Regions from separate parts of the Homo sapiens genome. Here region 2 is linked to region 1. The links come from fine-mapping of genetic effects on gene expression. A gene starts in region 1. The other region holds a variant in brackets. All regions are shown on one strand. Distances are between the middles of the regions. Region 1 holds the start of SCAMP2 (secretory carrier membrane protein 2). Region 2 overlaps SCAMP2 (secretory carrier membrane protein 2).

What was found.
Region 2: its variant is fine-mapped to the expression of SCAMP2 in blood mononuclear cells (TOPMed, PIP above 0.99).

Annotation. Positions count from the first base shown.
Region 1 is chr15:74,871,912-74,874,709 of GRCh38, reverse strand. It overlaps SCAMP2 (secretory carrier membrane protein 2), which reads left to right and starts at 1,345. Exons shown (of 9, transcript NM_005697.5): 1 at 1,345-1,511. The coding sequence starts at 1,455.
Region 2 is chr15:74,843,184-74,845,981 of GRCh38, reverse strand. SCAMP2 (secretory carrier membrane protein 2) reads left to right here. Exons shown (of 9, transcript NM_005697.5): 8 at 389-509; 9 at 765-2,252. The coding sequence ends at 899. Among named protein-coding and RNA genes, the nearest start is that of ULK3, 1.4 kb to the right of the region's middle. RefSeq lists a silencer at 2,345-2,798 and an enhancer at 2,327-2,798. The variant A/G (reference allele first, on the strand shown) is at 1,629.

The sequences.
Region 1 (2,798 bases):
TGAGATATGTATATGTATATATATATATATATATATATATATATATATTTTTTTTTTTTTTTTTTTTTTTTTGTAGAGCCAGGGTCCTGGTATGTTGCCTAGGCTGGTCTCGAACTCCTGGCTTCAAGTGATCCTCCTACCTCTGCCTCCCAAAGTACTGGGATTACAGGCATAAGCCACGCACCCAGCCCTTTATGGAAATTAATTGAAAAATTTTAACAAAGTTCTGTGATAATTTTGCCCCCTTTAAACATATCTTTGATTACAACATGAAGAACAATAGACCAATTAACAGCACTGTATTAGTTCAGGGTAAAAATGACAGTGGCTGGGATTCGGTGACAGCAGAGATGAATAATACCAGACAGATCCAAATAAATAAGGTGGATTTGGCCAGACAGTGGTTCATGAGTATAATCCTAGCATTTTAGGAAGCCAAGGCGGGAGGATCACTTCAGCCCAGGTGTTTGAGACGAGCCTGGGCAATATAGTGAGATCCCCATCTCTACAAAAAATCCATAAATTAGCTGGGTATGGTGGTGACCAGCTGTAGTCCCAGCTACTCAGGAGGCTGAGGTGGGAGGATTGCTTGAGCCCAGGAGCTCGAGGCTGCAGTGAGCCATGATTGCACCACTGCACTCCAGCCTGGGCGACAGTGAGACCCTGTGGGGGGCGGGGGCGGGGGAAAGCGGAGCTGTGGAGAGTGAAGCAGCCACCTCCCCCATGATTGAGGCTGTGTTGCTGAATTCCGTGAGTCACTTCATAAATGTTTGATGTCCAGGTTCAAGTCCCAACTCAGGTCCCAAAGCTGATGGGCCCAGGAACCCTCGTCCCTAAAACGATGAAACGACATCAGAGGGCGAGCAGCCCTAGAAGAAGCAGGCTCAGCTCGGGTGGAGGACTGCTGGATGGTCCTGGCACTTCTCTTTCCCCGAGCACGTTCTGCAGAAGAAGCGCTTTCCTAGTTCTCCCAAGGCCTCTGGCCTCACCTGTCACCCCTGTCCTTTGCCCAGGGATCAGTTTGGACTTCTTCCCAAACTTGGTCTACAGAGAAGTGAAGGGGCTGTTTCCTGTCCCACTTTTGAGAGTTTGCTTTAGAAACATAAAATTGGAAGGTGTCAGATTGATAGGCAGTTGGGAAGGACTCCGGCCACGCCTCTGGCTCCGTAGACGCTCCGCGCAGCCAAGACCCCTGAATCCCCAGCAGAGCGAAGATGTGGACGGAAGCCGAATGCCCACCCACCGCACTATTGTGGGCTGGGCGGGGGGGGGGGGGGGGGGGGCGGAGCGACCCCGGTGCCGTCATAGGGCCACGCCCTCGGGGGAGGGCATCGCGCCTGCGCCAGAACCGCTGCCTCGCTCCCGGAAGTGGAGGGTCTACACGAAGCGCCGCTGGGTCTGGGTGCCCGGAGGCAGCAGCGTTCGCGGAGTTCGCCCGCTGGCCCCCGATCACCATGTCGGCTTTCGACACCAACCCCTTCGCGGACCCAGTGGATGTAAACCCCTTCCAGGTAGAGCCCCTCTCCCGCCATCCAGCTCTCAGATTTCCCTAGGGCCCACGGCCGCCGCCCGGGCCTCTCGCTAGAGCCGGGAGACGTGGCGTAGGAGGGACGGGTCATCTGCCCAATGGGAGAGCGGGCTTTGAGGTCTGGCCTATCGTAACGCGTGAGGGGCGCGACTAGCAGCAGGTGGAACTGCAGAGGAGGCGGGGCGCTGAAGTGTTGGAGACAGTGGGGTCTTCTAGCACCCGGAGGCTGGGCTGTGCTAGGGAAGGGGACTGGAGCAGGTACGGTCGGACCCTTCCGGAAGTCTCCTAGCGTCAGGGAGAAGCGAAATGTGGCTATCGCATTCCCTCATTCTTGGATAGACACCTGTCTTGAGTCACTTTAGAAGAGGGGGTGACAGCAACATATGAGGAGGTGGTGAAGCCTCTGGTGGAGGGGAAAAATGTGGGAAAAGCCCAGGACACCTGCCACCGCTCCACCACCAGCCAAACTAGTGTATAAAGTACAGGAGAGCCCCTGAGATTTGTCAGGGAAAGAAAGATGGGAGAGGGCGGGAAGGTAGCCCAAGTTGAAAAATGGCCTTGATAAGAATTCCACATTTTGGCCATGGGTCTAGTTTGGAGTGGGTTTTGACCAGATAGGAGAGCCCGGGTTAGGGAGAGAGGAGAGGTGCGGGGGACTGTGAAAAATTCTGGACCCACAGGGAACGTTTGTCTGATGGAACTGTGTGTGGTGGCAACATAGTTGAGATGCACTGACGTGTGAGCTGGCCTGACTTTTTTTTTTTTTTTTGAGACGGAGTCTCGCTTTGTCGCCCAGGCTGGAGTGCATTGGCACGATTTCCGCTCACTGCAACCTCTGCCTCCCGAGTTCAAGCAATTCTCCTGCTTCAGCCTCCTGAGTAGCTGGGACTACAGGCGTATGCCACCACACCCAGCTAATTTTCATACTTTTAGTAGAGACGGGGTTTCACCGTGTTGGCCAGGCTGGTCTCAAACTCCTGACCTCAGGTGATCCATCCGCCTCGGCCTTCCAAAGTGCTGGGATTACAGGTGTGAGCCACCACGCCTGGCCTGACCTTTTGAACAGCAATCAAGGAAGAAACAATCTTCCTGCTTTCTTTCTTTTCCTTTTTTTTTGTTTTGTTTTGTTTTGTTTTTTGAGACAATTCTTGCTCTGTCGCCCAGGCTGGAGTGCAGTAGCGCGATCTCGGCTCACTGCAGCCTCAGCCTCCTGGGTTCAAGTGATTCTCGTGCTTCAGCCTCCCGAGAAACTGGGATTACAGGTGTGCAC
Region 2 (2,798 bases), 29 kb after region 1:
CTCCCTCTGTTGCCCAGGTTGGTCTTGAACTCTTGGGCTCAAGCGATCCTCCTGCCTCAGCCTCCCAAAGTGCTGGGATTACAGGTGAGAGCCATAGCACCCAGCCCGGTGCTACTTCTGACTCTGTGAAGGCAGCAACCACATCCTCCCTTTCAGACCTCACATAACCAGAAGATTCCCCTTGTGAATGGGGTAGTGTGGGCCTGTCAGCCTTCACGGAGGTCTGGCCTCACAGGCCAAGGGCTTCTGGCTCACAGGGCTCCCTGTGCTGTGGGGAGATGCCAAGGTGATGGTCAGGACACAGCAGCCACTTGGAGAAGAGCCCCTTATGCTGACTTTTGGAGCCCACTCCCACTTTGCTCCCTCTGGCCTCTTCTTCCCTTTATAGCGGTTGGATTGCAGCCCTGTCTACACTGGATAATCATTCCCTGGCCATATCAGTCATCATGATGGTGGTGGCTGGCTTCTTCACCCTCTGTGCCGTGCTCTCAGTCTTCCTCCTGCAGCGGGTGAGTGGTGTGGGCAGGGCTGACAGCAAATGGGAGGAGGCAGGCAACCGTTTCCTGCCCTTGCCACGAGATGTTTTTCACCACTGCAGTTGGGCATCCTAGGCCCCCAAAGGTCCAGTACCTTTCTCCAGGGATCTGGGTGGGGGGTCAGGCAGTGCCAGGCTTCTGGTGACCCCTTTGGGAGTATAACCTGGATGGCTGGCTTCCTGGTGGGCCCAAAGGACAGGCTTCTCTCACCCCACCCCTCTTCGCCAGGTGCACTCCCTCTACCGACGGACAGGGGCCAGCTTCCAGCAGGCCCAGGAGGAGTTTTCCCAGGGCATCTTCAGCAGCAGAACCTTCCACAGAGCTGCTTCATCTGCTGCCCAAGGAGCCTTCCAGGGGAATTAGTCCTCCTCTCTTCTCTCCCCCTCAGCCTTTCTCTCGCCTGCCTTCTGAGCTGCACTTTCCGTGGGTGCCTTATGTGGTGGTGGTTGTGCCCAGCACAGACCTGGCAGGGTTCTTGCCGTGGCTCTTCCTCCTCCCTCAGCGACCAGCTCTCCCTGGAACGGGAGGGACAGGGAATTTTTTCCCCCTCTATGTACAAAAAAAAACAAAGCTCTCTTTCCTTCTCTGGTGATGGTTTGGTAGGATTCTTTTGTCTCTGGAAGCAGTGGGACTGAAGTTCTCTTCGTCCTGTGCACACACAGACACCCCCACACAGTTGGGATCACAGGCTGACCTGGGCCCATCCCAGCTGGAGCTTTCTGCCAGGGTCCTGGGCCTTGACTCCCCCACCCTGCAGGCCTGGCCTGAATCTGGCTTCTTAGACACAGCCCAGTCCTTCCTGCCTGGGCTGGGAATAAGCCTCTCACAGGTTCTGGTGGACAGATCTGTTCCCCAGGTCACTCCAGTGGTCTCCAGGCTTCCAGAGAAGGCTGGTTGCCTCAAGCTCTTCTCTGCCTCATAAACGGATCCAGAGAAGGCTGGTTGCCTTAAGCTCTTCCCTGCCTCGTGTTCCTGAGAAACGGATTAATAGCCCTTTATCCCCCTGCACCCTCCTGCAGGGGATGGCACTTTGAGCCCTCTGGAGCCCTCCCCTTGCTGAGCCTTACTCTCTTCAGACTTTCTGAATGTACA[A/G]TGCCGTTGGTTGGGATTTGGGGACTGGAAGGGACCAAGGACACTGACCCCAAGCTGTCCTGCCTAGCGTCCAGCGTCTTCTAGGAGGGTGGGGTCTGCCTGTCCTGGTGTGGTTGGTTTGGCCCTGTTTGCTGTGACTACCCCCCCCCCTCCCCGAACCGAGGGACGGCTGCCTTTGTCTCTGCCTCAGATGCCACCTGCCCCGCCCATGCTCCCCATCAGCAGCATCCAGACTTTCAGGAAGGGCAGGGCCAGCCAGTCCAGAACCGCATCCCTCAGCAGGGACTGATAAGCCATCTCTCGGAGGGCCCCCTAATACCCAGTGGAGTCTGGTTCACACCCTGGGGGGTGTGTCACTGTGATGGGACACGTAGGAGTCCACCCTTAAAACCAGCACCCTGTCCCTCGAGGCTGCCGAGTGGGTGTGTGGACTGGGGTGCCTTCCCACAAAACTAGCCTCCGGCTCTGGGCCCGAGACAGCCGCAGGCCCCAGCCACTGAATGATACTGGCAGCGGCTGGGGTTTTATGAACTCCTTTCTGGTATTTTTTCCCCTCTATGTACAAATGTATATGTTACGTCTCAATTTTTGTGCTTAAGTAAAAATAAAAACATTTTCAGACAACACGGGTCCACATGTCTGGTGGACTTGGGAGGACGGGGCAGCCCACAGGATTAGGGGCTGGGCGCCGCTGCTAAGATTGGAGAGCGGGGACAGTTAAGATGCAATAAATAGGTCAAGGCCCTTCCTCAGAAAAGTGAAAAGCAGCTGGGAGGCCTGGGAAGCCAACGCGGCCTCTTCCAAAGGCGCCTTCTCGTGCCAGTAGCTCTCCTTTCAGAGCTGCGGGTCCTGGGGAGGGGCCCTGGGAGCCTCCCGGACGCCGTCGCCCCCACACACGCCCGCTCCGCCGCCCGCGCCCTCACGTGGGCGATCTCTAGACGCCTCTGCGCCCGCTAGGAGTCCCCGGAGACCACGCCGGCCGTCCTCCGTTGTTAACTTCTAGGCTCGCGGGGCCTCCGTATCCCCACGTGGGCCCTGCAGGAACTGGCGGGGCGCGTGACCCGGCGAGGCCCAGAGACAGGGGAGGGGCGCCGGGAGCCGGGCGGATCCGCGTCCCCGATGCGCGCTGCATTTCCGGCGGGCGGCGCTGGGGGCAGCGTGGAGCCACCC